7 linked regions of the Homo sapiens genome follow. The protein of the gene in region 1 purifies or fractionates together with the protein of each later gene. This does not show direct contact. Each region holds a gene or a part of one and is shown in the gene's direction. Other genes may lie near its edges. The genes, in order: RPRD1A, VPS50, DTX1, PKN3, SUPT6H, RNGTT and BCL2L14.

The links.
Region 2: the proteins of RPRD1A (region 1) and VPS50 purify together in Homo sapiens (affinity purification with mass spectrometry, with the first as the bait; one large-scale study listed by BioGRID). This does not show direct contact.
Region 3: the proteins of RPRD1A (region 1) and DTX1 purify together in Homo sapiens (affinity purification with mass spectrometry, with the first as the bait; one study listed by BioGRID). This does not show direct contact.
Region 4: the proteins of RPRD1A (region 1) and PKN3 purify together in Homo sapiens (affinity purification with mass spectrometry, with the first as the bait; one large-scale study listed by BioGRID). This does not show direct contact.
Region 5: the proteins of RPRD1A (region 1) and SUPT6H purify together in Homo sapiens (affinity purification with mass spectrometry; one large-scale study listed by BioGRID and IntAct). This does not show direct contact.
Region 6: the proteins of RPRD1A (region 1) and RNGTT purify together in Homo sapiens (affinity purification with mass spectrometry, with the first as the bait; one large-scale study listed by BioGRID). This does not show direct contact.
Region 7: the proteins of RPRD1A (region 1) and BCL2L14 purify together in Homo sapiens (affinity purification with mass spectrometry, with the first as the bait; one study listed by BioGRID). This does not show direct contact.

Annotation. Positions count from the first base shown.
Region 1 is NC_000018.10:36,057,285-36,061,524, reverse strand, and holds part of RPRD1A (regulation of nuclear pre-mRNA domain-containing protein 1A), read left to right. Parts: intron 1-4,240. UniProt on the Homo sapiens protein: Interacts with phosphorylated C-terminal heptapeptide repeat domain (CTD) of the largest RNA polymerase II subunit POLR2A, and participates in dephosphorylation of the CTD by RPAP2.
Region 2 is NC_000007.14:93,230,723-93,235,506, forward strand, and holds the start of VPS50 (syndetin), read left to right. Parts: upstream 1-1,643; 5' UTR 1,644-1,745; coding exon 1,746-1,778; intron 1,779-4,784.
Region 3 is NC_000012.12:113,054,835-113,059,764, forward strand, and holds the start of DTX1 (E3 ubiquitin-protein ligase DTX1), read left to right. Parts: upstream 1-1,895; 5' UTR 1,896-2,110; intron 2,111-2,614; 5' UTR 2,615-3,358; coding exon 3,359-3,617; intron 3,618-4,930. UniProt on the Homo sapiens protein: Functions as a ubiquitin ligase protein in vivo, mediating ubiquitination and promoting degradation of MEKK1, suggesting that it may regulate the Notch pathway via some ubiquitin ligase activity.
Region 4 is NC_000009.12:128,708,263-128,712,502, forward strand, and holds part of PKN3 (serine/threonine-protein kinase N3), read left to right. Parts: intron 1-4,240.
Region 5 is NC_000017.11:28,664,897-28,669,136, forward strand, and holds part of SUPT6H (transcription elongation factor SPT6), read left to right. Parts: intron 1-3,636; exon of another isoform or gene 3,637-3,734; intron 3,735-3,752; exon of another isoform or gene 3,753-4,240.
Region 6 is NC_000006.12:88,851,923-88,856,162, reverse strand, and holds part of RNGTT (mRNA-capping enzyme), read left to right. Parts: intron 1-2,398; coding exon 2,399-2,534; intron 2,535-4,240.
Region 7 is NC_000012.12:12,077,076-12,081,315, forward strand, and holds part of BCL2L14 (apoptosis facilitator Bcl-2-like protein 14), read left to right. Parts: intron 1-630; exon of another isoform or gene 631-903; intron 904-2,223; 5' UTR 2,224-2,230; coding exon 2,231-2,663; intron 2,664-4,240. UniProt on the Homo sapiens protein: Plays a role in apoptosis.

The DNA of each region.
Region 1 (4,240 bases):
CTACACACACTCGCTGAAAGATCTCTATAAGAGCTGTACAAAACAAGATAGATAGGAGGAAATTCTTTGTAGTTGGTGAAGGTCACTGCCTTCCCTAGTCTAGTGATTGTATCCTTTGTACCAGCCTCTTTTATGTTATATTGGTGTCTTAACAAAACTGTAAGTGCCTCAACCCCTTAAAGTATGTTTACTCACCCTGTATTTATTGATTGTGTATTACAATGGTAAAGAAAACAAAGGGAAAACAGTTTATCCCTGCCCTCAGAATTTATAGTCTTGTGGTAAGGGCAACCAATAAACAAAAAATTTTAAATATAAATTTCGTGTTTAGTTCTTTGAAGGAGGAAATCTTTAGTTAGAGGGAAATCATCTCTGCAAGGTGACGTTTAATAAAAGACCTCTTTGAACAAGTTGCGGGGGTAGGGGGGCTTGGGCCTGCAGCCACTGGGAATATGTGAAAGTGCTGAGGTGATACATAGCTTTGGATGCAAAGAGCCAAACCTGGAAATGGTCAGCCTTTGAATGCCTGTTAACTTTGTTTCCTAAATTTTTTTTTTTTTATGAGACAGTGTCTCACTATGTTGCCGAGGCTGCTCTTGAACTCTTGGGCTCAGGTGATCTTCCTGCCTCAGCCTCCCGAGTAGCTGGGACTACAGGTGCACACTACCATGCTGGGCTTATTTTTTCTAGGGTTGGCAACAATTAAAATAATACATTATTTAAGGTTTAGATTTTCCTCCTATTTGTAATCATTTGTTGAAATCATCACTTTTTCAATAAGCTATGTTAGATATCTTTCAGGGAACTAATTACCATTTTATATTGTATTATAGGTTGGGGGGTTACATATTGGTTGTGAAGTAGATAGTGGGCTCCTTCAGGTTGTTTACCTATTTCAATTTTTAGCTCCCCAGCATACTGCGTTTGATGAAAGTTTTTAAATATTCGTTGAATTAACATTCGTATTCACTAATACGGCTTAAACTTGTAAGATGTGCTAAAATAAGTACTGTATATTCTTGGCTGTTCTTATTAATTTGGTTTTAGAAAAATGGAGAAGTGAAAGAACATTTTTCTTTTTTATTTTTTTTGAGACAGAGTCTCGCTTTGTTGCCCAGGCTGGAGTGCAGTGGCGCGATCTCGGTTCACTGCAACCTCCACCTTCCCGGGTTCATGCCATTCTCCTGTCTCAGCCTCCCAAGTAGCTGGGACTATAGGCGCCCGCCACCATGCCTGGCTAATTTTTTTGTATTTTTAGTAGAGATGGGGGTTTTACCGTGTTAGTCAGGATGGTCTCGATCTCCTGACCTCGTGATCCGCCCACCTTGGCCTCCCAAAGTGCTGGGATTACAAGCGCGAGCCACCACACCCGGCCAAAAGAACATTTTTCATTTGCTTTAAAAATATATAGCAATATAAATCCTAAAAATGAAGAGAGTCTGTTTTAAATTGACAGTTCAGTGGCTTTTATATTGTCTGATACTGTTACTTGTTTCTCTTTCAGAGTTAGAATTGAAAAAGTAAGTAGACAATGCTAGCACCTTCTAAGTTCTTATATTTAAAAGGATTAATGTTGTCAAACTGACATGGTGACTCCCATGTAGTCATCTTGCAGCTTCAATAGTTATAGTCTTTCTTAACACTTAAAAAAACTTAATTTCTTAAGATATCAAATATTGAGCCAGTATTTATTTCCGTGATCATTTCACTTTTTTAGAAGCCATTTGTTTGAATCAGGATCCAAGTAAAGTTCATTTATTGCAATTGATTACTATGTAAATAAAGTTCCTTTACATCTATGGGTGCCATCTGTCTTTTATTTTAAATGTATTCTTTGAAAAAATCAAATTGGTTGTTCCAAAGAAATTCTTATTCTAGACCAGGAATTTCTCCTACTTTCTGGTTTGAGGATCTCTTTACTCTTAAAAATTGAAGATTCTAAATCTTTTGTTTATGTGGGTTATATCTACCGCTAGTTACTACATTGGAAATTAAAACACTTAAAAATTTATTTAATAATTATTTGTTTTAAAACTATAATACTAAATCGATTCATGTTAAATAATATTTTAAAAATTTTTAATTAAGGCCAGGTATGGTGGTGCATGCCTGTAATCCCAGCACTTTGGGAGACTGAGGCAGGCAGATCACATGAGGTCAGGAGTTTGAGACCAGCCTGGGCAACATGGCAAAACCATGTCAGTACTAAAAATTTAAAAATTAGCCAGACGTGGTGGTGCACATCTGTAATCCCAGCTACTTGGGAGGCTGAGGCACAAGAATCACTTGAACCCGGGAAGCGGAGGTTGCAGTGAGCTGAGATTACTCCAAGCCTGGGTGACAGACTGTATCTCAAAAAAAAAAAGATTTTTAAAATTACAAATGGACACATTGTAATTGTATGTATTTATGGGATACAGTTTGATGTTTTGATAGATGTATATGTTGGTCTAATGATCAAATAAGGGTAGTTAGTATCCATTACCTCATGCAATTATCGTAACATAACATTTTTAATGAAAACCAATTATATTTGCTAAAAAATACCAGGGAAAGGAGTGATTATTTTACATTTTTCCAGATCTTTATAAGATCTCTCTTAATAGAAGCCTGCTGAATTCTCGTGTCTTTTTCTGCATTCAGTCTTGCTGTATCACATGACCTCTGCAAAACAACACTGTACGCTTGTGAGAGAATGAGAGTGAAAAAAGGCAAATAATAGATGAGCATTCTTGTGAAAGTAGTTCTGACTTAATTGACCCCATGAAAGTGTCTTGACCCCCTGGAATCCACAGACTGTTGGCTGAGAAGTGGACCATTTTCTGAATATTGATAATTAGATCAAGAGACTAGGATACATTGCTTTGCCTTAAGCAGACATATCCCTCTAAAATATTAATTCCCCAGAAAAGCAGAAACTGAATTTATAAAATTTCCCTTTGGCCCGTAACGTAATTTTATTTAGGTTCTCTTTCCTGTGACGTTAAGGTTTTTTAAAAAAAGTTGTTGATTTGATGTTTTTACATCTGATTCAACAAATTATCTCTACATTTCTTATAAAAATAAAAGTGTGTTCCTACATTAAACAAACAATCTGTAATTTTACAGGCTTTTTTTCTTGATAAAATAAATTTTTCATTCAAAATGTACAAGTAGAAGTTTCTTCTGTTGGTTTTCTGGCCGGGCGCAGTGGCTCATGCCTGTAATCCCAGCCAGCACTTTGGGAGGCTGAGGCGGGTGGATTGTTTGAGGCCAGGAGTTTGAGACCAGCCTGGGTAACGTGGCAAAACCCTGTCTCTACTAAAAATACAAAAATTAACAGGGTGTGGTGGTGCATGACTGTAGTCCCAGCTACCCAGGAGGCTGAGGTAGGAGGATTGCTTGAGTCTGGAGGCAGAGGTTGCAATGAGCCATGATCTGACCAGTGCAGTCTGGCCTGGGCAACAGAGTGAGACCCTGTCACAAAAAATACAAGAAGTTTCTTCTATTAGGTTTCTTTATTCAAGAAATACTTGTTGACCTCCTTACTGTCTTAGTGAACAAGGATGATTGAGCAGATAAAGGGACATACAGCTGTGTTCATGGAGCTTACATATCAGCCAGGCAAATGGACTTTGCCAAACTAGTAACTGCACAGTAATACAAAGGAGAAATGTAATTGGGAACCTATCCTAGTTTATGGAATCAGGGAAGGGTCCTTTGGTTTAAGATTTGAAGTATATGTAGAATTTACTAGGAGCTGTACCAAGAATATAGACATAGGTTTTAGCTGTTGTAATCATTTGAATGTGGTGTTATGTAGAACAGCATTATTTGACTTTTCAAATTGAACATTTCTGTTCATAAGTCCTTTCTGGAGGTAGACAGGATAATACACATTTAGATAAACTTTTATTTATTTATTTATTTTTTTGAGACAGGGTCTTACTCTCTCACCCAGGCTAGAGTGCAGTGGCATGATCTCAACTCACAGCAACCTCTGCCTCCTGGGCTTAAGCGATCCTCCCACTTCAGCCCCCTGAGTACTGGGACTATAGGTGCACACCACCATGCCTGGCTAATAATTTTTTTTGTATTTTTTGTAGAGACCGTGTTTGCCATATTGCCCAGGCTGGTCTCAAACTCCTGGGCTCAAGTGATCCTCCCGTTTTGGCCTCCCAAAGTGCTGGGATTACAGGCATGAGCCATGGAGCCTGGGCTAGATAAACGTTTAGTGTTTTATGTCTGAAAATAAGTGACT
Region 2 (4,784 bases), on another chromosome or scaffold:
AGATTAGAGAAGGTAAAGAATAAACTAAACTAGACTTGCCCTAAATGTGACCAGAATTTCTTGAAGGGGTTAGAAATAACAGAGTCAGAGAAGCATATAGGTAAACATATAATTTCAAAGGAATTGCTGAACGCAGTGATGATACAAGTATGCACAAGGTGGTTCTGTTGGAGTAGAGAACTGGGCAGAATCAAAACCAATAATACCTCATAATTGTATAGTGCTTTACAATTTATACATTTCATTCACCTACATCATCTCACTTATCCTTACAAAGCCCTATATAAAATATTAAAATATTACAACCTCATTTGTAAAAATTAATAAAACGAGGCTCTAAGGGGTGAGAAAATAGAATTTCAGAATCAGAAATAACCTCTGTTAGTGTCCCCCAAACTTCAGTCATTTGCAAATCACCTTTATTAGTTTTGCCATATCTGACTACCACCCATACTATTGTTTACCTAGTATTTTTTATTACGTTGACACACTTGAACTTTTTTTATTCTAAGAAATATTTTTGAAATTATGGGTCTGTGTCATACTTTTAGAAGTTAACATTATAATAAAATAAACTTAAAAAAATTGGTGCCATGCTTTAGAACTTTCTTCAGCACAATACATGAAAATCTTAACACATCTGATGACCGATTAATCCTTCAGTTTCTACTTGCACATCTGCAGTAATCTTAGGCAAGTTCCTTAATTTCGCCATACCTGCTTCGTCATCTTTAAAATGGGAACCCACAGGATTCTTGTGTGGATAAATGAAATCATATATTTAAAGCTATTAGCAGTTCCTGACAGGTACTCGGCTTTCGATAAGTGTTAGCTATCATTGTTAGCTTTAGGGCTGCTTTTTCTTCTTCTTCTCATATTCTCATAATTGTAAAGTCCTTTTAAAATTGTGTCCCCAAAGACACTTCTGTTCCTTTCCCCAATTTAACTAAACTGCCAAAAGTTGAAAAGAGGACTTTAAAGTGACAGGTATACTCGTTATTGTCGTATTTCCCGTCATCACTGCTTTAGAGTACGGAGGTAAAATAATAGGCGGGCGTCAAAATCCTTCGATTTTAGAGCTTTTGCAGGGGATACCAAGACTGAGGTAGAACAGCCCTAAACCTGGAGGGCCGCCTATTGGGCAACCTAGAGCACACCTTTCCTCAGGCCAAACCCAGCGCGCCCGGGGTAGTCTCGAGTTCTCAGGTTACCCCTCAGTGACAGCCCTTTCTTGAGTTCCTTCTCCTTCGCGTCAGTCTCTCGTTCTCCCACCCCGCCCCTCTAGACCAGGTGAGGTTTCCTCCCTCACACTCCTAGGGGACATCGCGTCAATCTGGCTTATATATTGTCTCCTCTGAGTTTGATCTTTCGCTCAACGCCTAGTCACCTGTGACTTAGGTTTCCGTCTCGCCGAAGAGTAGCTACTGCCTAGTGCAAGCACCTTTGTAAGACCGGCGATCGCAGTGGTCGCTCTGAGCAGTAATATTTACCGGCTTAACTGAAGCACCCGCTCTTTTGCTTGCTGGGAGATGTAGTCCCTGGGTTGGCCACTTTAGTTCATCGTTGCTACCGCCGGCGTCCAGAAGACTACAGTTCCCAGCAGGCCCAGGGAAAGACAGGATACCCTGGGTCGGCTCCTCCACGTGACCACCCACTATGGCTTCCTAGTGTCAGGGCCAGCTGTGTAGTGGCTCGGTGTGATTTGTTAGCTCTTTGAGGCAGGGTACCCTCCTCAGGATTTCGATATGCAAAAAATCAAATCTCTCATGACCCGACAGGTAAGTCGCGGCGGCTGAAGCAAAGGCTTCCTTCATCTCGGAAGTGAGAGGAGCCGAGATGTTCTGTCCCCAACCAGTGGCGGGCGGGGATCTAAGTTATGGGTGGTGGCAGGTGTCAGGGGGACTGGGAAGCCGGGGCATACCCTAGAAAACTCACCTGGGCCGCCTGGGTTGGAGCACTGCTCCAGCGGGTACCAGCCTCCCAGAAATATTCGTTTAAAAATAAGTCATTGAAGGAATCAGGGTATCTTTGTCTCCCCTCCTCCTCTTTTTGCCGTCTTTCCAGAACAGCCCGAGCTTCCTTGCAAGGTCTTCCGCATCCAGGCTGTCTGTCATATGCGAGCTGATAGCCTGGGTAGGGTGGTGTGGTCTGTGCAGTAGAGGTGACCTGGAAAGACTGAAAACGGATGATTTGAAGACAGAATTAGTAGCTTTTGGATTTTGGGCAAGTCCCCAAACTTTGTAGCTTACGTTTCTGGATGTGAAAATAATTATTTTTGTTCATTTTACTTCACAGTTCTGTTATGAGGGTCATCGATAAGCTAATATATGTGAAAACTCTTTGTGAAATTCTGCTTTAAAAAATTTATTTTTGTCATGGCAAAATACTGATCTTTTCTTTTTTTTCCCCAGAATGGAAATTCATGAATAAGAGCTTTGGCTATTTTGTAACCTGTCTCATAAATGTTAGGGACCTCGTAATAATGCCTCAGCTTCATTTAAGAAGTGCAGAAATTTTCTTTTATGTACTTATTGATTATGACTTTGTTTTAGCTGCCTTTATTTACTTCAGCTTTAATATTTCACTAGAATTGGTCATTTTATTATTTTAATATGAAAGATAGTTAAGATTAGAGTTTTAAATCAACATGGCTTTTAGAAGTTTGGAGAATGTGGAAGGTAATCGTTTAGTGAAAGGTATATTTGTGAGTTTTTTTCTTGTTGATTACAAAAATAACTCAAATTCCACATTCTTATTTGAGAATTCACAATTTGAGAGATATATAAACAGGATACAAATTGTGTATTTCTCTTGCACAATGCACAAATGACCCTTACATGATTATTTTAGTTATGTCAGAGCATTTTGTTAATGTTATGAAAATATAATCAAAATGTTCTGTGAATAATAAAAATATTTAAGTAAGTGGCTAGTAACATTTGTTAATTCCTCACATGTGTTGAGTACTGGTGTTGTGCGTCCTACTACTTCTTACTTGACGATGAGTTTGGGTCCTGCTGTATCCTGTGGCAGCTGTGTGACTTTCGGCAAGTTACATAACGTTTTTAAGCATCTATTTCCACATCTTTAAAATAGGAATAATGTGTGCCTTATGGAGTTAGCCTGATAGTGGTGTTTACATGATATAATGAAGTTAAAGAGTTTAAGGCGTTAACGGAGTTCCTGGGCATTATCAAGGAAGTGCTTGAACGCAGAGACCGTTAGTTACATTGGCTATGTTGATGGTGGGAAAGCAGGAAAATTGGAAGCAGGCTGTTGCAGTAATTCAAGCAATAGATAAGTTCATGCTGACTTCGGTACCTGTTTGATTTTTAAATCAATATATACTTTTGTACTTTATATCACTAATACCTCTAAACTGCCTTTGGAATGCTGAATTTGGACTTTTGTGCATCAGCTGTTTGATGCTGTCTCAAGTTTGTTGCCTGCCATACAGTTCAGTGTAGTTAACGTTGTCATAATTGTATGGTAGCTGTGGTTGGTTTAGTTTTTTTGACCTCATTTTGTAAAACTGAGGAGAGAAAAAAATTTCAGATAGCAGTGATAAGTGTATGTCTCCTAAATGTAATGCAATTGTGCTGAAAATGGTAACACTTAAGCCTTAGTCAGTTGCTTATTGAATTTCAGCAGGTCAAACCTGTGTTTAATTGAAATGGAAAAAAATACATTAAAGAACACATACAAAAAGCTGGAACCATACTGTGTACAAAGTGAGGTAAAATTAGGAGTTTTGCATACATATTTAAAGTTATCCTAATTATATATGTTATGGCTTGACTTTCACATATTTGATACTGATGCACAGTTCCTGAATCTATGAGGTATGAAATTAGTGTGCCTGCTATTTACATTGAGGGTTTGAATTAGTACAGTTTATTATTGGGTTAAATTTAATAGGATTACAAGTAAGTATACATGAAAGTATTTCTTTTTTTGAACCTATAGAATGTGCTAATAATATATATTGAGTTAATATGGAGAGATAGGAAATTAAGGTCTGTGAAATTTAAGCTTTGGGACATTTCAGCTGTCCTGGGATCTTTGTTTGCAAAATAATGGGAGGAAGGAAGGCTTTGTTAGCTCTCTTTATTTAGATGAGATCTGTTCTTCATCTTTCTCCATCATGCTCACCTCTGTTCTTTCAGTCCATTCAACAAATGTTTATTGAGCAATTTGTGCCAGGTACTATTCTAAGTAAAAAAAAAAAAATAGACAAGTGTTAAGGCAGACACGGTGATAAACACTGTAGAGGAAAAGAGGATAGAAAGTCCTGGGAATTGTTGGTGATTTGAGGTCACTTATAATTTTAGATAGGATGGCCACGGAAGGCCTCACAGAGAAGGTAATATAAAAAAACCTGAAGGGGGTGAGGAAGTGAACTCTGTGAGGTAGATATTTGGGAAGGAGCATTTCCAGTGGAAGGAAAGGCAAATGCAGAGGTCCTGAGGCAGGAGCTTGTTTGAGAAATTGCAAGTGGCCTGTGTGGGTGAAGTGAGTGAGGAGAAGAGTAGTGGGAGATGAGGTTAGGATGAGGTTAGATGACTGAAGGCAGGAAGCTAGATCATGTAGTACCTTATAGGTAATAGCAAGGTCATGGCTTTCATTCTGAGTGAAATGGCAAATAGAGGAATGATATAATTGGACATAACACTTCAGACAGACCATTTGGACCCATGTTTTAAGAACAGATTGAAGAGCGGAAAAGAGCAAAACCAGGGGAGGTGAATGATGAGGCTACTGTGGTAATCCAGGTGAGAGGGTGG
Region 3 (4,930 bases), on another chromosome or scaffold:
CTACTTAGCCTTTCTGAGCTTCAGGAGGTTTTTTGTTTCCTTGTGTAAAATGAGGACAACATTACCTTCCTTGTGGGGCAGTTATGAAGAGTAGTAAGTATTATTTAAGTGCCTGGCACATAATAGGCACTCAGTAAATGACACCCTTATGTAATGGGGCACCAGCCACACCACACCAAGATGAATATGATGGCTATCTCACTCTAGCAGGGACAGATTTCATTTAAGAGGCTAATTGTGATACAGGGTGTCATGTCAAGGTATGGGCAAAGGAACACAGAGGAAGATGGGGTGAATTCAGGAAAGGCTTCCTGGAGGAGGTGACATTTAATCAGACCTTAAATAGCATTCGACAGGAAGTCCAGAGACACGAGTTCTTCTTTCCAATTTGCTGCTAAATCACCATGCGACCTTGAGCCAATCTCTTCTCCACTGTGGGATCCCCAGATCCTTCTACAACATAAGCTGGTTGAGCACCTGCTCTGAATCCGTTCAGTCACAGTCTCCTGTGAGAAGAATCTGCTGACAGCCAGAGCCCTTCTTCCCAGACATACAAGACACACAATGCCTAGACACACAAGTTTGCCTGTAATGGGAGAGGGGGACTTCATGGACCCCAGAAGGCCATCCAGGGACCCTAGGCTAAAATCCCAGAACTCAGTGATCCTGTGGGAGTATCGTCAGACTTGGCCCTGCCCTATGCAAAGCCTCTCTCTTTAGTCTACAGCAGGTGAAAGCAAGCAGAATCATTGACCCAATCTGAAAAAGCCCATCCAACACTGGGCTGCAGGTCAGAGCAGGGGCCTGGGGAGGGGAGGTCCCTCCAGCTGGCCGGAGAGCCAGAGCTGGATTCTGGGAAAGCACCCCTGAGCAGCCTGCCCCTGACCCTGCCTAGTGTATCCCCATCTGCCCCGGGGAGGCAGGCGTGGGCTGCTCTGGGCAGGCGCCCAAACAGGCCACTGACCCCCGTCAGCCACCCAGGCTGGAGTTCCCGGACGCATCCTTCATCTTCCCCAATCTAAACACCCCCAGGCCCCAGGTGGTCCACCCCCCTCCCAGCCAATGTGTGTCTCAGCCGCATCCAGCTTGCTGGAGGACAGGGGGACTGGCCATCCCGTTAACACTTGAGCCGCTGCCATTTCCAGCCTTCCCTTCCATCCAACCAATGCTCACCCACCATTTATTGAGCACCAGTTGTTTGCAGGTGGCTGTGAATGACATGGCAGAGGGCCTGCCCTTCTCTTCCTCCAGGATCTCACCTCCTGGCCAGGGTCCCCTCCCCTGGTCCCACCCCTCTCACCTGGAGCAGGTGGGTGCTTTGGGGGAAGTGGGCTCAGGGCTGGGAACTGGGTACTGGCAGGAGATTCAGATCGGGGTTGGTGTCTGGGCATCGCTCTAAGCTTTTGTGATCCTGGGCCTGGCTCTTACTCTCTCTGGCTTCAGTCTCCTCATCTGTACTCTTCAGATTCCACGGTTCCAACTGAGTCTGAATCAGGCCTTGTCAGCACCCTCCCACCCCCAGGAATAGTTAGAGGAGGAAAGGAGGCTAGCTCTGAATGCTTCAAGATCTTTCTTTAGACAGTCTCTGGATCTTATTCATTCATTCAAGCATTTATTGAGCACCTATTCAGTGCCAGGCCCTGGACTGGGAGACTGGAAATAAAGATGACAAAGATTCAAGCCGGTGACTCCTAAACATCCCACTCCCTGCCTCACGCTCTGCTTGGGGTCAGAAGGCCCCTTGGGGTCTCGGGAGGGCCTGGCCGAGGATTTGGGGCGCCCCGAGACTCGCGTGTCAGCGCCGGTGGCGCTCAGGGCCGAGATCTGTCTCCTCCCCTTCCTCCTCCTCCGCCCCCTCCCCTCTCCCTCCCGGAGCACGGCCGAGGCCTCCTCCCACCCGCGAGATCCCGGCGGCCGCCAGCCGGCTCCTGCGTCCGTCCGTCGGCCGGGCAGTCTGTCCACGCGCGGAAAGCTCGGCGCGGCGGCCGAGGGGCCTGGGAGGGAACGGGCGCGGAGGCGGGACCGCGGCTCCCTCCCACTCCGGGGGGAGCCCAGGAGGCGGCGGTGCTGGAGCGCGAGCCGGAGCCGGAGCCGGAGACGAAGAGAGGCGGTGAGAACGCGGGTGCTTAGGGACCCCACCCCCGGCTCCCGCTGGGGGCCCGCGAGCGGCTCGGGGACGTCTGGGCTGGGGAAGCGGGGCTGTTACCCCCAGGGCGGGAGGCAGAGACGATCCAGCTCCTGGCTTCGCCCCCTCCGCGACGCGACCCCCGAGGGGCCCTGGGCCGCGCCTGCAGCGCCGCGCATCCCCGTGCTTCCCGGCGCACCCCAGCGCACCCGGCATCCCCCCGGCAGGGCGAGGGCCCCGGGGGAAGGGAAGGCTCCGGGAGCCAAGGAGGGCGCCCCCCAGGCGGAGAGTCTCGGAAAACCGCGCCCCCGGCCCCTGCCTTCCCTCCAGGCCTGCCCCAAGGGAAAGCGGGCGGGGCGACCCCGTACGCCCCCCTTGCTGTCCCCCTTCGGTTCCCCATTGTTCTCAGCCGAATGCTCTCCTGGGAAGGGGGGAGGGGGTGCTGCGCTCTCCTCTTAAAGGGCCCTCTCCCCTCTTGTCTCCTGGCAGGTCGCGAGCACGAGTGGGGTGGGGCGTGCCCACGGGCCCCCGCCCCCCTCGTCCCCCTCGTCCCCCAGCCCAGCTCCGGAGCCGCAGTCCAGGCGCGCCGCCCGAGGGTCCACGCCGCACCCCTCCCCCGTGCGTTCTGCGGCCACCCAGGCCTTCCAGGACACCGTGGAGAGGGAACAAGGGGGCAGGGACGCCCCCTTCGGCAGGAGCCGTCGGAGAAGGGGGCCCAGACCGGAGGGAGGCGAGAAGCCCCACTGAAGCCGGGCGCAGGGTCTGGGACGCAGTTGGGAGTGCAAAGGGCTGGCTGAGAGCCGCAGGAGCAGCAGGCTGTGGCCCAGGCCTCCTGGGTGACAGGCCCTGTCTGGCGGGGAAGAGGGACCAAGAGACAACACGGAAGAGGCTGGACCTCGAACAGGGGCGGCTGCCTCACTCCCTACCTGAGCCAGCCGAGGGGGCCAAGGACTTTAGAGCTGTTTCCTCCGGCATAAGAGAGACACTTGCTTTCCAGGGCAGCACCCTTTATCGGAGAAGGCTCTACAGGGAAGGGGTCTTTGCAGCCTGGATGGCCATCCCACATTCCTTTAACGGAGGTCTCTAGGCCTCAGAGAGAACCCAGAGTTAGAAAGGAGGCCAGACGGTCCTTGCTGTCCCCCTGGGGAGAGAGGAAGTTGCCGCCTGCTGCCAGGCCCAGGAGGAGCTGGGCCTGCAATAGTGGGGGACCTGGCCCCTGAGGCAGTGGCGGCCATGTCACGGCCAGGCCACGGTGGGCTGATGCCTGTGAATGGTCTGGGCTTCCCACCGCAGAACGTGGCCCGGGTGGTGGTGTGGGAGTGGCTGAATGAGCACAGCCGCTGGCGGCCCTACACGGCCACCGTGTGCCACCACATTGAGAACGTGCTGAAGGAGGACGCTCGCGGTTCCGTGGTCCTGGGGCAGGTGGACGCCCAGCTTGTGCCCTACATCATCGACCTGCAGTCCATGCACCAGTTTCGCCAGGACACAGGTGAGCAGACACCCACCCCATGCCACCCGCCCCGCCGAGCCATCACTACCTTGCAGCGTAGGATGCTGAAAATCCCAGTAAATCTGCTGATGCCAAATCCCTTCCCCATCTCCCTGCCTCACCTCCAGAAAAACAGGGCAGTCTAACCTTGTCCAGTTTAAGACTTGGATTCCAATGCAGCCTCTGAGCAAGCTGTAGGGCCTTGAGCAAGTTGCATCATCTCTCTGAGCCTCAGTTTCCTCATCTGCAAAATGGGTAGATCAATATCTCTCACAGCTGAGTGAGGATTAAATAAAATTGTGCTCACTGAGCACAGAACCTAGAACAGCAGTAGCATGGGATTGTAGAATAAGGGCTTTACATGCACTTCCTCATTTGATTTTTCCCAAGAATCACAGGCAGTAAGTCTGTGTATTGTTGTATTATTATGAGTCCCATTTTATAGATGAAGAAACCGAGTCTCCCAGAAGCTGAGTGATTTAAACTCAGAGCTGGGATTTAAACCCAGGCGGTTGAGTTCCAGAACCAAAGTTCTTAACTGGTATCCTATACTGGCTCCAAGTGTTGGTTTGTGGGGTGGAGTCGTGCTGGTGGTAATTAATTGGGGATGGGGGGCGTTGGTGGTGTTGATGGTGGGGTGAGGTGGCAATGATGGAGGAGACAGTGTTAGCGGTTGTGTTGGTGGTGACTCAGTGATAGTATTGATGGTGGTGGGGTCTTGGTGACAATGGAGGGATGGATGATGGTGACGTGGCAGTGTTGGTGGTGATGTCAGTGATAGCGTTAACCATGGGATTCAGTGGTGTTGGTGACATTGATAGTTGTGTTGGTGGTGGTGCTGGAAGTGGTGTGATGGGGTGGTGATGATGGAGAAAATGAGAGAATGATGTTGGTGGCAGTCTTCGTGGCCATGTGGTGTGGCTGGTAGCCCTGTGTGTGGCTGTTACTTAGTGGTATTGGTGATCCTGTTGTGGTTGTAATGATGGTGATGTTGATGGTTGCGTTGGTGGTAATGTGATGGCTGATGATGGAGATAAAATCGATGAGGTCCCACTCTCAGGCCTACTCTCTTTTGTTCTGGAGATTTGTCATCGTTGGGGAGATCTCCCTGAGTCATTGCCCGGTGGTATCTGTGACAAGCTCCATGGGCAGTGGGGACTGGTGGGGTCCTGCCGTGCAGAAGCAGCCTAGAAATCCTTGGCATGTTTGACCCCCCAAGGACCAGCTGATGGGGTTTGGGGAAGTTCCTATGAATCCCTGGATGACAGAACCACACGTAATAACCCCAGGCTGGTAGGATGCTCGCTTTCCCT
Region 4 (4,240 bases), on another chromosome or scaffold:
TCCCAGCCACTCGGGAGGCTAAGGCAGGAGAATTGCTTGAACCCAGGAGGTGAGGTTGCAGTGAGCTGAGATTGCGCCGCTGCACTTCAGCCTAGGTAACAGGGCAAGACTCCATCTCAAAAAATAATAATAATAATTTCCTTGGAAAAAAAATAATAAAATTAAACTAAAATTGCTGGGTGCAGTGGCTCACACCTATAATCCTGGCACTTTGAGAGGCTGAGGTGGGAAGATTGCTTGAGCTCAGGAGTTTTTTTGAGACCCAGTCTCAAAAAAAAAAGAAAAAAAGAAAGTTTTCTTGGCTGGGCACAGTGGCTCAAGCCTGTAATTCCAGCACTTTGGGAGGCTGAGGTGGACGAATCATTTGAGCCCAGGATTTCTAGACGAGCCTGGGCAACATAGTGAAACCTCATCTTTAGAAACAAAAAAAATTAGCCGGGCGTGGTGGCGCATGCCTGTAATCCCATCTACTGGGGAGGCTGAGGCAAGAGAATTGCTTGAACCTGGGAGGCAGAGGTTGCAGTAAGCCAAGATTGCACTGTTGCACTCCAGCGTGGGTGACACAGCAAAACTCTTTCAAGAAAAAAAAAAAAAGAAAGAGTTTTCTGGTCTGGCTCAGTGGCTCATGTTTATAATCCTAGCAGTTTAGGAGGGTGAGGCATGTGGATCACTTGAGTCCAGGAGTTTGAAACCAGCCTGGGCAACATGACAAAGCTCCATCTCTACAAAAAATACAAAAATCGCCGGGCGCGGTGGCTCACGCCTGTAATCCCAGCACTTTGGGAGGCCGAGGCGGGCGGATCACGAGGTCAGGAGATCGAGACCATCCTGGCTAACACGGTGAAACCCTGTCTCCACTAAAAATACAAAAAATTAACCGGGCGTGGTGGCGGGCGCCTGTAGTCCCAGCTACTCGGGAGGCTGAGGCAGGAGAATGGCGGGAACCCCGGGGGGCGGAGCCTACAGTGAGCCGAGATCGCACCACTGCACTCCAGCCTGGGCCACAGCGAGACTCTGTCTCAAAAAAAAATAAAAAAATAAAAAAATTAGCCAGGTATGATGGTACGTACCTGTAGTCCCAGCTACTTGGGAGGCTGAGGTGGGAGGATTGCTTGAGCCCAGGGAGGTTGAGGGTACAATGAGCCATGATCGCGCCACTGCACTCCAGCCTGGGCAACAGAGAGCCCGTCTCAAAAAAAAAAAATTAGGCTGGGCACGGCAGCTCATGCCTGTAATCTCAGCACTTTGGGAGGCCGAGGTGGGTGGATCACCTGAGGTCGGGAGTTCGAGAGCAGCCTGACAAAAATGGAGAAACCCCGTCTCTACTAAAAAATACAAAATTAGCCGGGCCTGGTGGTGCATGCCTATAATCCCAGCTACTCAGGAGGCTAAAGCAGGAGAATTGCTTGAACCCGGGAGGTGGAGGTTGCAGTGAGCCAAGATGGCACCATTGGAATCCAGCCTGGGCAACAAGAGCAAAACTCTGTCTCAAAAAAAAAAAAAATTTGCAAAAATTAGCTGGGTGTGGTGGCGGGCGCCTGTAGTCCCAGCTACTCGGGAGGCTGAGGTGGGAGAATGGCATGAACCTGGGAGGCGGAGCTTGCAGTGAGCTGAGATTGTGCCACTGCACTCCAGCCTGGGTGACAGAGTGAGACTCCAAACAGAGTGAGACTCCGAGCAGAGTGAGACTCTGAGCTCTGTCACCCAGGCTGGAGTGCAGTGGCGCGATCTCGGCTCACTGCAAGCTCCTCTTCCCGGATTCATGCCATTCTCCTGTCTCAGCCTCCCGAGTAGCTGGGACTACAGGTGCCCGCCACCACACCTGGCTAATTTTTTGTTTTTGTATTTTTAGTAGAGACAAGGTTTCACCGTGTTAGCCAGGATGGTCTCGATCGCCTGACCTTGTGATCTGCCGGCCTAGGCCTCCCAAAGTGCTGGGACAGGTGTGAGCCACCGCGCCCGGCCAAAAAAGTTAATTTTCTTATCTTGCACTGAGATCTGTCTCCTTGTAGCAGCAGCCAAATCATCATCAACAAATAATCTGAGAGCATGGGCTTTGAAGCTGTATCCCACCGAGATACAGTGAGAGCTGGAAAGGCCAGTGCCTGTCTCCACAGAGCACTGCTACAGGGCCGACTGACCCCATTCCATTGTGAGCAGAGCTGAGAAGAGGAAATGCAGGCTCTGGATGGAGCCCTCTCACCTGGCCTTGGGGAATCGAGGAATATTTTCTTTTCTTTTTTTTTTGAGATGGAGTCTCGCACTGTCGCCCAGACTGGAGTGCAGTGGTGCGATATCAGCTCACTGCAACCTCCGCCTCCTGGGTTCAAGCAATTCTCCTGCCTCAGCTTCCCGAGTAGCTGGGATTACAGGCCTGCACCACCATGCCTGGCTAATTTTTGTATTATTAGTAGAGACAGAGTTTTGCCATGTTGGCCAGGCTGGTCTCAAACTCCTGACCTCAGGTGATCCATCTGCCTTGGCCTCCCAAAGTGCTGGGATTACAGGCGTGAGCCAACCATGCCCGGCCCAAGGAATGTTTTCTAGAGGAGGTGGTGTCTTGGCCTTGAAGGACTTACACGGGAGTACTTATGGCCAAGTAGACAAGTTGAGGAACGCAGAAGAAACAGCTTGTTAAAAGGCCTAGAAGTCAACTACTCAAGGCCACCCCATATCCTGTCCCCTGGCTAAACACCCCAGATACTTGAGTTGTCCTTTTTTTTTTTTGAGATGGAGTTTTGCTCTTATTGCCCAGGCTGGAGTGCAGTGACACGATCTTATTGCCCAGACTGGAGTGCAGTGGCGCAATCTTGGCTCACTGCAACCTCCGCCTCCCGGGTTCAAGCAATTCTCCTGCCTCAGCCTCTTGAATAGCTGGGATTACAGGCATGTACCACCACACCTGGCGAATTTTTATATTTTCAGTAGAGATGGGATTTCTCCATGTTGGTCAGGCTGGTCTCGAACTTCCGACCTCAGGTGATTTGCCCGCCTTGGCCTCCCAAAGTGCTGGGATTACAGGCGTGAGCCACCTCGCCCCACCTCTTTTTTTTTTTTTTTTGGAGACAGAGTCTTGCTCTGTCGCCCAGGCCGGATTGCAGTGGTGTGATTTCGGCTCACTGCAAGCTCTGCCTCCCGGGTTCACGCCATTCTTCTGCCTCAGCCTCTCGAGTAGCTGGGACTAACTACAGGCGCCCGCCACTGCGCCCGGCTAATTTTTTGTATTTTTAGTAGAGACGAGGTTTCACCATGGTCTTGATCTCCTGACCTCGTGATCTGCCCACCTCGGCCTCCCAAAGTGCTGGGATTACAGGTGTGAGCCACCACGCCCGGCCTTTTTTTTGGGGGGGGTGGGGGACAGAGTCTTGCTTTGTCGCCCAGGCTGGAGTGCAGTGGCATAATCTTGACTCACTGCAACCTCCGCCTCCCAGGTTCAAGCGATTCTCCTGCCTCAGCCTCCCAAGTAGTTGGGATTACAGGCGCCCACCGCCATGCCCGGCTAATATTTGTATTTTTAGTAGAGACAGAGTTTCACCATGTTGGCCAGGCTGGTCTCGAACTCCCGACCTCAGGTGATCCACCTGCCTCAGCCTACCAAAGTGCTGGGATTACAGGTGTGAGCCACCACGCCCGGCCTCAAGTTTTTGTTTTGTTTGTTTTTTTTTGAGCTGGAGTCTTGCTCTGTCGCCCAGGCTGGAGTGCAATGGCACAATATTGGCTCACTGCAACCTCTGCCTCCCGGGTTCAAGTGATTCTCCTGCCTCAGCCTTCCGAGTAGCTGGGATTACAGGTGCCCACCATCATGCCCGGCTGGTTTTTGTATTTTTAGTTGGGATGGGGTTTCGCCATGTTGGTCAGGCTGGGCTTGAACTCCTGACCTCAGGTGATCTGCCTGCCTTGGTCTCCCAAAGTGTTGGGATTACAGGCATGAGCCACTGCGCCCGGCCGAGCTGTTCTTTCTAAGCTTCTCTTTCTACCCTGGACCCCTGCCTTTGTTTACAAGTTCTCTCTGTGTGTAACCCCCAGGCCCAGACTCTCCCTAAATGATACTCTTGGGCCTGCTTCGTGTCCTCAAAAGCTGCTAGATCCCCACTGCTTTCTCTACCCTTTGAGGGACAACCCTCTAGTGACGTGACACATGAACTTACTCCGTTGACAAAACACGTTTCATATCCATTGGGAGAGGTGGGGCAGAGCTGGGACTCACCTCCACTGTTCAGATGGGGAAACTGAGGCCCAG
Region 5 (4,240 bases), on another chromosome or scaffold:
ACTTCCACTTGCAGAATGTTTTTGTAATCTGTCTTCTATTCTCCATCTTCACTTTTACCACCTTATTCCAAGCCACCACCATCTTTTGCCTGGGCTACCACAACAGTATCTTCAGTTTTCCCTGGTTTCCACTCAGATCTTCCTCCAGTTCATTTTCCATGTAACAGAATTGGATCAGGGCAGATCATGTCATTTCCCTACTTAAAACTCTCCAGTGACTTTCCATGGCCTTTACGCCCTGCTTGAGCATACCTCTCCCTCATAGGCTGCTGCCTTCACCATGCTCTAGTGCCATCAGCCTCAGGACATCACCTATTATATACCATGTTCTTGCCCACTTTCTCTACTGGAACCTCTCCTCCTACTTCTACAGGTCATATCCTACCTATTGACATCTCAGCCTAAGTAAACTCACTTTAGATGAGATGAGAATATGCATTTCCTTCTTCGCTTTTAGAGCAAGGTTTATTTTATTTGTTGCCAATATGTCTCCTGCACCAGAATACGGGCATCCTAGGGGCATGGACCTAGTCTTGTACGTGCCTGGCATGTGGTAGGCACTCATTAAATACATATTTATGCCAGGCATGGTGGTTCACGCCTATAATCCCAACACTTTGGGAGGCTGAGGCAGGCGGATCACCTGAGGTCAGGAGCTCGAGCCCAGGCTGGCCAACATGGTGAAACCCCGTCTCTGTTAAAGATACAAAGAAAAAATTAGCTGGACGTGGTGGTGGGTGCCTGTAATCCCAGCTACTTGGGAGGCTGAGGCAGGAGAATTGCTTGAACCTGGGAGGCGGAGGTTGCAGTGAGCTGAGATCGTGCCACTACACTCCAAGCCTGGGCAATGGAGCGAGACTCTGTCTCAAAAAAACGTATATGTATATGTATATGTATTTGTCCTAGCTACCTGGGAGGCTGAGGTGAGATTATGGCTTGAGCCCAGGAGGTGGAGGCTGCAGTGAGATGTAATCACACCACTGCACTCCAGTCTGGGTGACAGAGCAGGACCCCATCTCAGAAAATAATAAGTTTTTGTTGGATTAGCAAGTAGATTAAGTTCAGTTCTACATTTAAAACCCTGCAATGGCTTCCCAGTGCCTAGATCCTTATGACTTCTCCAACCCTTATGAACCATTCTTCCTCTCCTGGGCCTTCTCTGTACCTGCCACAGTACACGTGTTGTGCTAGAAGCACACGTCTCTGACATCACTCCCCAAACCATCTCCAAAGAAGCCAGCTCCTCTGCTGAACTAATTCCTCCTTACTCTTAAGGTCTTTGTTTAAAGTCACTTCCTCAAAACCAGGTTAGGTTGTCTTATTACAGGATCCCATGCTATTCTTATCATCAATTCTCTAAATCAGGGGTCACAAACTAAGGCCTGTGAGCCAAATAAGGTCACCCCCATTCATTTACATGTTATGTATGCTGTGCTACAGTGGCAGATTTGGCCCTATAGAGAAAAGGAAAGGTTTGCCAACCCCTGTGCTAGAGCAGGAACTATGCGCTCCTCAATGTGTGTACCACAAGGTTCAGTAACTGTTAATCTCTCTTTGTGTTGCAGGGGTTCTGAATCTGGTTACATATTTCAGTTGTACTCTTCTTTAGCCCTTACCCTGTTTCTCTAAAGAAATGTGGAAAGAAAAGGAATACTTTTTTTTTTTTTTTTTTTGAGACGGAGTCTCGCTCTGTCACCTTGGCTGGAGTGCAATGGCATGATCTCGACTCACTGCAAGCTCTGACTCCCACGTTCAAGCGATTCTCCTGCCTCAGCCTCCTGAGTAGCTGGGATTACAGGCGTGCACCACCACACCCGGCTAATTTTTGTATTTTTAGTGGAGACAGGGTTTCATCATGCTGGCCAGGCTGGTCTCGAGCGTCTGACCTGACCTGAAGTGATCAGCCTGCCTCAGCCTCCCAAAGTGCTGGCATTATAGGCGTGAGCCACCGCGCCCAGCCGAATAAATAATATTTTTAAATGAACAAAATTAACTTTTTCTGTATTTTAACATCTTGACTTCATGTAATTAGGTTTTCAGGGTTTTTTTAATTACAAAGCCTTCTGAATTCCAGATTTAAAAGGACTTAAGTAGACTCTAAATACTTTTATCTATTAAACTTTTAGGTTTTGAAATTCCAAATTGGATATTCACTTATGGATACCTTTGGAATAGTCCTAGTCCCTTGCCCATAAAATATAGGATACAAGTGTAATCCCAGCACTATGAGAGGCTGAGACGGGCGGATCACAAGGTCAGGAGATTGAGACTATCCTGGCTAACACGGTGAAACCCCGTCTCTACTAAAAATACAAAAAAAAAAAAATAGCTGGGCGTGGTGGTGGGCACCTGTAGTCCCAGCTGCTTGGGAGGTTGAGGCAGGAGAATGGCGTGACCCCAGGAGGCGGAGCTTGCAGTGAGCCCAGATCATGCCACTGCACTCCAGCCTGGGTAACTGAGCAAGACTCCGTCTCAAAAAAAAAAAAAAAAAAAAAAAAGTGTGTGTGTGTATATATATATATATATATATATATATATATGTATGTGTGTGTGTATACATATGTATGTATATGTGTATATATGTGTGTGTATATATGTATATGTGTATATATATATAAATACGTGTGTGTGTGTGTGTTTTATATATATATATGTATATATGATACAAGACAACATGGAATGTCTTGTAGCTTAAACTCCACCCTAGACTTCTGGGGCTGTTCTCCAGAGCACCACGCCTAAATGTTTGCTCATGTTGCCTTTTTCCAGACTGTTTTCTTAAATCCTCTTTTATTCAGGCATCACCTTTTCTCAGATATTCCCCAACCTTCCCATTGCTCTCATAGTCCAGTTATATAACTTAACATAACCCTATTGTGCTTTGTCATAACGTTATTAACAAGTTTTTTGAGATAGATTGTGAACTCCACCAAGACTGTGAACTCCACCGGGGTAGGAAGCATATTTTACTCATTTTTATATACACAAGTCCCAGCACAGAGCTTGACTCTAAAAAAAAAAAACCCAGCAAATGTTAATTGAAGCTGCAAAGTGGAAGGAATTAACAGACTAGATCTCTTTTCACTCTGGTCTCCTCTTAATTGCCTACTACAACTTCTTGTTCAAAGGGAGGGACTGCAGAGGGCCTCCCTTGTGGCAATCTGATCCCAGTTCCATTCCTCTTCCAGCGAATGTCATGGTAACCACCAGCCTCTCCCATTGAGCCACATCTTGTTCTGCAGCTGTGCTTCTGACTAGAGAAACCTCTCCCTCCATCTCCCCACTGCCCTTCTAGACCTATTCCAGTTGCAAATTTAACTTACAGTGTGAGTATGGGGAAAATTTTAAGAGCATAAGTGCTAAATACAACATCCAAACTACATCAGGCTCATCATAGATACCATGTATTAATAATAATCATACACAAATAAATACATTAGTGTCTTTATTCTAGAGTAGTTCCCGCTTGTCAGTCTCAGACTGCAGTGCTACTGCAGTCTGCACATCTAGCTCCTGCAAGTTGCAGCAAGTCAGAATTGCTTCTGGCACACCTCTTATAACTGGAAGTCTTGGTATTGAGCTAGATTGGAGGCATTCCCCAGCTATAGCATAGTGTGTGCTTTATTGCTAACCTAGGCGATGGGAAGAAAGAGAACACAGCTATCTTTCCAAGCTGTGTGCAGCATGGAGCACCAGCTGCCCTTGAGACAGAAGAAAGCTGTTGTTTTCATCAGGTAGGCTGTGTGTTTCTCTGTTAAGTAGGCTGAGGGGCATCTGGTCTGCAGGAGCTGGCATTTAATTTGAAGATGTTGAGGCCTTAAAAGATTGAACTTGTGGGTCTGATAGCCTAATTAGAACAAGCTATGTGTGGGGGCTGCCGTACTCAAATCTGTTTTTAATGGCTCAGTTCAGGGCTGAGGGGGAGCAATGTCAAAATTAAAATTAGAGCTCTAGATTTAATTGGCAGAAGTTTAAGACTTTCACTTTTGGCAGTGCTCAAGCTAAATGACCTTAAGGATAGAGATCTTGGGGTCATGGGGGAGCATCACCCTAACCCCTAGGCTTACTATACCGCATCTCTTTAGGGTCTTTACAGTCACTCCTCAACTTTTTGGACTCAGGACCCCTTTATACTCTTAAAACTTATTTAGGACTTCAAAGACATTTTGTTTATGTGAGTTATATCCTTTGATATTTACCAGATTCGAAATTAAAACTCAGTGAGACATTTAAAAATATT
Region 6 (4,240 bases), on another chromosome or scaffold:
TGGACTAAATAAGATGAACAGATTTATTTATATATTTTATCATAACTTTAAATATCCTAATATATATCTTGACGTTCTAAGAGAAAGATACAGTGGTTTCCTAACTTATTTGCCTTGAAATACCCTTTTGGTGAATATCAGCTTTGCAAAATGCCAGCCTAAGTCCTTAACAACATGATGGGTTGTGTGTCTTCCATGCCATTTTTGCAGATGATGTCATCATTGCTTTTTATTTGATCTTCCCTTTTGTTGATTTAAATTCCTTTTGAAACATAATCCAAGGCAAAGCTTACTTCTTCCAAGTAGCTTAGATTCTCTCTATCCACCAGGAATTGCTGCTTTTGAAAAGCATGTGCCAGAGGGTCTTGCGAACTAAGTATTCCTGTTGTCTGTGTGCCAGCTGGCCTGGCATTTGGTCTAGGAGTCTTTCAGATACACAGTCAGTCCAGACTGAGGCTGAATTTATTTTTCCTAGTGAAACCTGAGTCCCCACACTCCCCATCTACTAGGGCTGCAGCTATTATAGCAAGGGCCTGAGCTCTCCATCTGCTCCCCAGACACCTGCTGGAACTAATTATCATTATTATTAAAACTTTAAAAAAATTTTTTTCTATTATGTTGCCTTTTTTCCTTTCCTTTTTCTTTTTTCACTTTTTTTTTTTTTGGAACTGATTATTTTGGAAACAGCAAAGAACAACATACTTCACAATCTAATCCAAAAACATAAGCCCCTTTGGTCTTCCATGCTGCTCTTTTCCATTTTGTTTGTACACTTGTTTTCCCTTCATCAGCTCTCCTATTTCTCCTCACCTATCCTAAACATGTGTACTTTGCTCTTCAGAACATTGGTTTGTGGTTAGCCAGTTATCCACTATTATATTAGCTTCCATATACTCTGTTAGCTTGCATGTCTTCATGTAATATTTCTTCTGTCCCCTAATCTTAACTTGATTCAGCTGCATCTTTCAGTCGTTGCTGCCTTTTTTTTGGACATACCTCAGGTACTTTGCGGGTAGGAGGTTGGGCAGTCTGGTCAGTGTTCTCTTTCATTTTCGTTGGTACCTCCAGACCACTCTTCTTCCATTCTTTCATTTAACACCAAACACCAAACAAAAACAGCCTAACAAAATGATTCTGTTTCTTTGAGGCTTATGCCTTTTAACTTTCTAATCTTTTTTGCTATAAATTTTTTCTCATTCTTTGAAGACTTTGGTTCTTGGATTTGATCTTCATTTTCACCCCAAGTCTTCTTATTATCCATTTGGTAGCATAGCTTCCCAGACTGTAATGTCTTCAACATCAGTCCATCTGGACTTTATATGTGGTGTGAAATAGAACTCCATTCTTGATTTGCTGATGGGAAATCAGTGATGATAACCTAACCATTTGAAGAATGACAGGTTGTTAAGTGTATGAATTCCCCCATATGTTGATTGAGTTTAAGAAGATAAGAGATAATTGAAAATCTTATGGCTGTGTTTAAAAATATTTTAATTTTATAGTCATAAATGAGAAGAAAAGTTATACCTGATATTGTGGTACCTGGCTATATCATGATATTGATTCAAAGAGAGGGATTAGCTGTTTTGCTAACAGGTATGGTAGAAAGAGCACTGGATAATTTAAAGTCTGGCAAATGGCAAATCACTTAATGTTTTTCACTGCTTTTTTCTATTTTGAAGTGGAGAGAATACCTAATCCATATAGTTATTGAGCTAGTAAAGTACATTTATATATGTGTATATGTGTATTTTGTAAACTTTGAAAGGCTTCAATGTTTAAGATCTCATAAAAATTAGAGAACCATTCTCTGTTAGGATGGATTCATAAGGTTACTCCTGAATATCACATTATCTCCATAAAAAACTTAGAATTCCCTATACTCTGTGTTTTCTATAGGAAATGAAAAAAGTTAAAAAAATTATTATTTGTGGACTAGGCGTGGTGGCTCATCGCTGTAATCGCAGCACTTTGGGAGGCTGAGGTGGGCAGATCACTTGAGGCCAGGAGTTCGCGACCAACATAGTGAAACCCCATCTCTACTAAAAAAAAGAAAGAAAAAACAAACAAATTAGCTGGGCATGGTGGCACACACCTGTAATTCCAGCTACTCTGGAGGCTGAGGCACAAGAATTGCTTGAACCTGGGAGGCGGAGGTTGCAGTGAGCCAAGGTTGTGCCACTGTACTCCATCCAGCCTGGGCAACAGAGGAAGACTCTGTCTCCAAAAAAAAAAAAAAAATTATTATTTGTGATACTTTAATCTACATGATAAAGAGACTCCAGTGAACATTAGTCTACAGATGTTTAAGGTCTATGGAAAACCAGTATGTTATTTCTCATGACCCTGTTCTTGATATTATACTGTAAATATTAGCTTTTTAATGTTTCATTTACAGGTACATGATGTTGATTGATGGCACAAATGAAGTTTTTATGATTGATAGAGACAATTCAGTATTTCATGTTTCAAATCTGGAATTTCCATTTCGTAAAGATCTTCGTATGCATTTATCAAATACTCTCTTGGATGGCGTAAGTCATATTTATGTATACTATAAAATTAAACATTGCCATTTTTCTTTTCCTTGTAAGTAAATGTGTATTTCTGTTGGTTAAGAAATTTCGAATGAAATCTAACTTTTTTTTTTTTTTTTTTGAGACGGAGTCTCGCTCTGTCGCCCAGGCTGGAGTGCAGTGGCGGGATCTCGGTTCACTGCAACCTTTGCCTCCTGGGTTCAAGTGATTCTCCTGCCTTAGCCTCCCCAGTAGCTGGGATTACAGGCATGTGCCACCACGCCCGGCTAATTTTTGGATTTTTAGTAGAGAAGGTGTTTCACATGTTGGTCAGGCTGGTCTTGAACTCCTGACCTCGTGATCCACCCGCCTCAGCCTCCCAGAGTGCTGGGATTACAGGCATGAGCCACTGCGCCCAGCCAAATCTAACTTTTATTAGGATGTTAAATTTCATTTATTTCTTATGTATACTTATATTGAATTAAGGTCCTCTTAAAGAGAGATCTGCCAACTGAATCTTTGAGCATAAGTAAGACTTTGAGATATTTTCTTTGGTGGAGAAATTTGTTAAAGATATGTAAAGGGTGTTAAATGAGTGCTCTGGTCAAATATGTATACATATGGATAGTTATATAATTTTGCATGAAGAGAAACATATGTTACATGTGGTTAGTAACTTGTCTTTTTCCCCACACTTAGCAATGTGTTTTGGACATCTTTTTCACATAAATGTCTGAATGGTTTACCATTGTGTATATAGAGACCATAAATTGGGGTTTCCAAACTATCTTGACTGTGAAAATTGTAGGGTTAAAAAATTGCTTGTTTAAAATATGACCCTTTCCAATAGCATATCCTAGACCATATGAATTGGAATCTCCCAGGGGCCTACATGTCCGTACAAGTGACCAAGTGATTGTAATTAGGCAAGTTTGAGAAATAGTTCTGTAATTTATTTAACCAGTTCCCTTTTGTTGGACATTTTGATTTTTGTATTTTTTCCTGTATCTAGTAAATTTTCATTCCTGTGACAGCATGAGTAACAAAATACCACTTTCTAATAAAAATGATATATATATACATATGTACATGTATATGTATCTATATGTGTATAGATTTAACTATCATAGTTAATGTGACTGGTACCCTTGGGGTTGTATAGTACATAAAAGTCATAGTCATTTGTGGCAGCTCTGGTAGTTGGTTCATGGGAACAGCAGGAACATTTTAGTTTTTGTTATCTTTATTTAAGGTACTTTTTTTAGCATTATAATTAATAAAATATAAGAAAGGAAAAGACTTAAGTAATAGCATTTGTCAAAGTTTAGTATAGTTTATAATTGAACTAATGTTTGTTGAGTGCCTATTATGAGTTGCTATACCAAGAGTACGGGTATTGCTTAGAGGGTTGAGGAGAAGGCCTCACCCTTGAAACATTTTGCTTAATTGAGCAGGGTGGAGAATGAATGGTAATGATGGAAGAGACCTTTGAATAAAACAATAACCCAAAGAGAGGTATTTAAGTCCTGAGGTAGTTTAGAGGAGAAATAAATCACATCTAGTTAGTTAGGAACTAAATATGTTTTGTGTAGGAGTTGGCATTAGAAACAGAAAGATTTCTATAGAAAGATTTTTGATGGACGTGGGCTGAGGGCATTCTAGGTAGGAAATAATGCTTAAAAATTAGATATTTAACCATCTACAGATTTAACTTAGCAATACTA
Region 7 (4,240 bases), on another chromosome or scaffold:
TTATCATTTGGTCCTGGTATGACAAGGTACAGTGGAAAGAAAAAGAGGAACATGCCAGCCAGTCCCCTTAATATTACTGCAGCTTCTTTATCATCACAGCAGCTTACATGCCGAAAGACCGTCTTAAATTAGGACCAGAAAGGGAAGGGAACATTATTAAGAGCCATATTAAGACAGAGCCTGAGGCCGGGCATGGTAGCTCATGGCTGTAATCTCAGCACTTTGGGAGGCTGAGGCAGGTGGATCACTTGAGCCCAGGAGTTTCGCACCAGACTGGGCAACATAGCGAGACCTTGTCTCTAAAAGACAAAACAAAAAAATTAGCCAGGTGTGGTGGCATGTGCCTGTGTTCCCAGCTACTTGAGGGGCTGAGGTGAGAGAATCCCTTGAGCCGGGGAGGTTGAGGCTGTGGTGAGCTATGATCTGCACTCCAGCCTGGGCAACAGAGCAAAACTGAGTCTCAAAAAAAAAAAAAAAAAGAGAGCCTGGGGCCTAGGACAACAGCTGAACTAGAAAAAAAACATAGCTACCACTTTTGAACCAGGTTCTGTGCAGGAACTTCTCTTGTGTATCTTACACCCTTACAATATCCCTGCAAGATGACTATTATTATTTACAATTTGCCTGCAGGAAGTTCATGTTTGGAGAGATGGAGTAACCTGCCACAGGTCACAAAACTAGTCACTGGCATGGCCACAATCTGAATTTGGGACTGTTAGACTGAGAAGCCCAAGCTAATTCTTGATACGCTCACTGCCTGGGACATTTCACACGGTAGATCTGAGCTTTCTCGCATCTGAGACTAAAAGGAAAATGTAGTCCTTAACAGACAGCAGAAGGAAACAGATTATTAGCAAAAAGAACTGCTTTCCTAGCAGGAAACCAGAGAAGGAGTTATTTCATGTAAGCTCAAGCAAAGGAAATTGAACAAAATCAGTTCTTTATCTATCCTGTTATTCGTATGGAAATAAAGAAGAAATGCTTGCATCCTGTTGTTTTAGTGCTTGTACTGATCTTTTTCAAACATGCCTGTGATCACATCACTCTCTACTCAAAACTTTGAACAGCTCTCCATTGCCTCCATCAGTGTGTTTCAAATTCGTAAAAAGTAAAATAAAATAACAGGATGCTTTTTTCAGATGAAATCTTACATGGCATACCAAATATAGCAAGAAAAAAGAAAGAGAGAGAGAGAGGAGAGAGAAGCCGGGACAAGCTAAAGCAGAGGGTAGAGGGAGAAGGAACCGAGGAAGGGAAGGGTCAGGTCCCAGGCATTTCTCTTCCCTGAATTGGCCTCCCTCTTTTGCCACCTCCCCAGCAAGACCTTTAACTCCACAGTCCACAGCTCATTTTGAAATGTACTGATCAACGTGAGAAAATGCGAAGCTTCAGCCTGATAGTCAAAGACCACCATAATCTGGACCCAAGTGCTAGTTCACTTATTTTCCCTCCACTATTTTCAAGCCCTGGCTATTTGCAAACTGCATACGTATGCTGTCCCAGTTCTCTCACCACTCTTCAAACACATTCTGAATTCACCTATAATCTCCCCTCTGCCCGCCCTGTTGTAGCCCCAATATCCACCCACCTGTCTAACTCCTTCTAGCTTTCCAAAAGCTTTCACTTGCCTCTTTCTTTGAAGCTCACCTATCCCTGCCTTCTAACCTGGCTATCTGCATCTCTGTTAGACCTCTTACTTAGTTCATTAGTTCATTCTCTCTCTGTTGTTTTTTGTTTTTTGAGACGGAGTCTCACTCTGTCGCCAGGCTGGAGTGCAGTGGCGCAATCTCAGCTCACTACAACCCCCGACTCCTGGGTTCAAGCGATTCTTCTGCCGCAGCCTCCCAAGTAGCCGGGTCTACAGGCGTGCGCCACCATGCCTGGCTAATTTTTGTATCTTTAGTAGAGACGGGCTTTCACTGTATAGGCCAGGCTGGTCTTGAACTCCTGACCTCATGATCTGCCCGCCTTGGCCTCCCAAAGTTTTGGGATTACAGGCGTGAGCCACCGCACCCGGCAGTTCATTTTCTTTATGTGGAGTTATCTATGGCCATGTCTCTCTTCCCACCCTAGTAAGACTGTGGCTTTTCCCTCTCTACCCTCCAGCACAAACACAATAGATGTTCAATAAATGTTTCCTGAGTTTTCACCCCTGTCTCTCCTAACCTGCAAAGGGTAAGTGGCCCTGCATAGAAGGGCACAGTGTGGACTTTGTTGTTACAGGCCCAACATGTGTAGCACCAGTGGGTGTGACCTGGAAGAAATCCCCCTAGATGATGATGACCTAAACACCATAGAATTCAAAATCCTCGCCTACTACACCAGACATCATGTCTTCAAGAGCACCCCTGCTCTCTTCTCACCAAAGCTGCTGAGAACAAGAAGTTTGTCCCAGAGGGGCCTGGGGAATTGTTCAGCAAATGAGTCATGGACAGAGGTGTCATGGCCTTGCAGAAATTCCCAATCCAGTGAGAAGGCCATAAACCTTGGCAAGAAAAAGTCTTCTTGGAAAGCATTCTTTGGAGTAGTGGAGAAGGAAGATTCGCAGAGCACGCCTGCCAAGGTCTCTGCTCAGGGTCAAAGGACGTTGGAATACCAAGATTCGCACAGCCAGCAGTGGTCCAGGTGTCTTTCTAACGTGGAGCAGTGCTTGGAGCATGAAGGTAGGCATCTGGGATTTCTTTCTCTCCCGCTTCCTGGTTTTTCCCTTCTTTGTGTCCAGAGTGGTACATCTCTTCTCATGTTGTAAAGTGGCTTTAGAGAAGGCATGCGTTGTGCCTCAGCTTTCCAACTTATTAGTGTTCAATCATAATTGCCCTGCTTTTCTCAAGACTAAAAGGAGTTGCTGCCTGGGCGCGGTGGCTCACGCCTGTAATCCCAGCACTCTGGGAGGCCAAGGCGGGTGGATCATGAGGTCAGGAGATTGAGACCATCCTGGCTAACACGGTAAAACCCCGTCTCCACTAAAAAATACAAAAAATTAGCCGGGCGTGTTGGCGGGTGCCTGTAGTCCCAGCTACTCGGGAGGCTGAGGCAGGAGAATGGCGTGAACCCAGCAGGCGGAGCTTGCAGTGAGCCAAGATGGCATCACTGCACTCCAGCTTGGGTGACAGAGTGAGACTCCGTCAAAAAAAAAAAAATGACTAAAAGGAAATGATGGAAGTTAAGGGTGCTGGGACTGGTTTTCTTTCTCCACTGTCTATAAATAAGCTTGTTTCCCAAATTCCTAGTCCTCTGTACCAGACACCAATATAAAAGAAGGAGGCTAGGCGCAGTGGCTCATGCCTGTAATTCCAGCACTTTGGAAGGTTGAGGTGGGCAGATCATAAGGTCAGGAGTTCAAGACTAGCCTGGCCAACATAGTGAAAACCCGTCTCTACTAAAGATACAAAAAATTAGCCGGGCATGGTGGCGCATGCTTGTATTCCCAGCTACTCGGGAGGCTGGGGCAAGAGAATCGCTTGAACCTGGGAGGCGGAGGTTGCAGTGAGCCGAGATTGCATCACTGCACTCCAGCCTGAGCTACAGGGTAAGACTTTGTCTCAAAAAAAAAAAAAAAAAAGAACGAGCCCTAACCAGGGGCTTGCTTGGGCTGCCTGGGCCGCTGCTCTTCCTAAGTCAACTCATTCGCTCAGGGCCTCTGTGTTTCCATCTGTACATTGGGTACCCCACTCTCTCCACCTCGTATGGTTGATGGGAAGATCAGAGAGCAAGAGTAAAAGGACTCTTGACAAAGTACAAACCATCCTACAAAAACAACTGAGAAGCATTTAGACAAAATCTTCCCTCAGTTGGACAAAATTAATTGTACTTAATGAAACATTTTCACCAGGCACTGAGGCTCATACCTGTAATCCCAGCACTTTGGGAGGCCAAGGTGGGTGGATCGGTTGAGCTCAGGAGTTCAAGACCAGCCTTAGCAACATGGCAAAACCCTGTCTCTACCAAAAAATACAAAAAAATTAGTCAGACATGGTGGTGCACGCCTGTGGTCCTGGCTACTCGGGAGGCTGAGGTGGGAGGATGGCTTGAGCCTGGGAAGTAGAGGTTGCAGTGAGCCAAGATGATGCCACTGCACTCCAGCCTGGGTGACAGAGTGAGAGCCCATCACGTCGATACTCTCAGCACTGTGGGAAACCAAGGCAGGAGGATCACTTGACACCAAGAGTTTGAGATCAGCCTGGCATCATAGCAAGACCCTGTCTCCATTAAAAAATTAAAATAAAAAAATTAGCGAGGC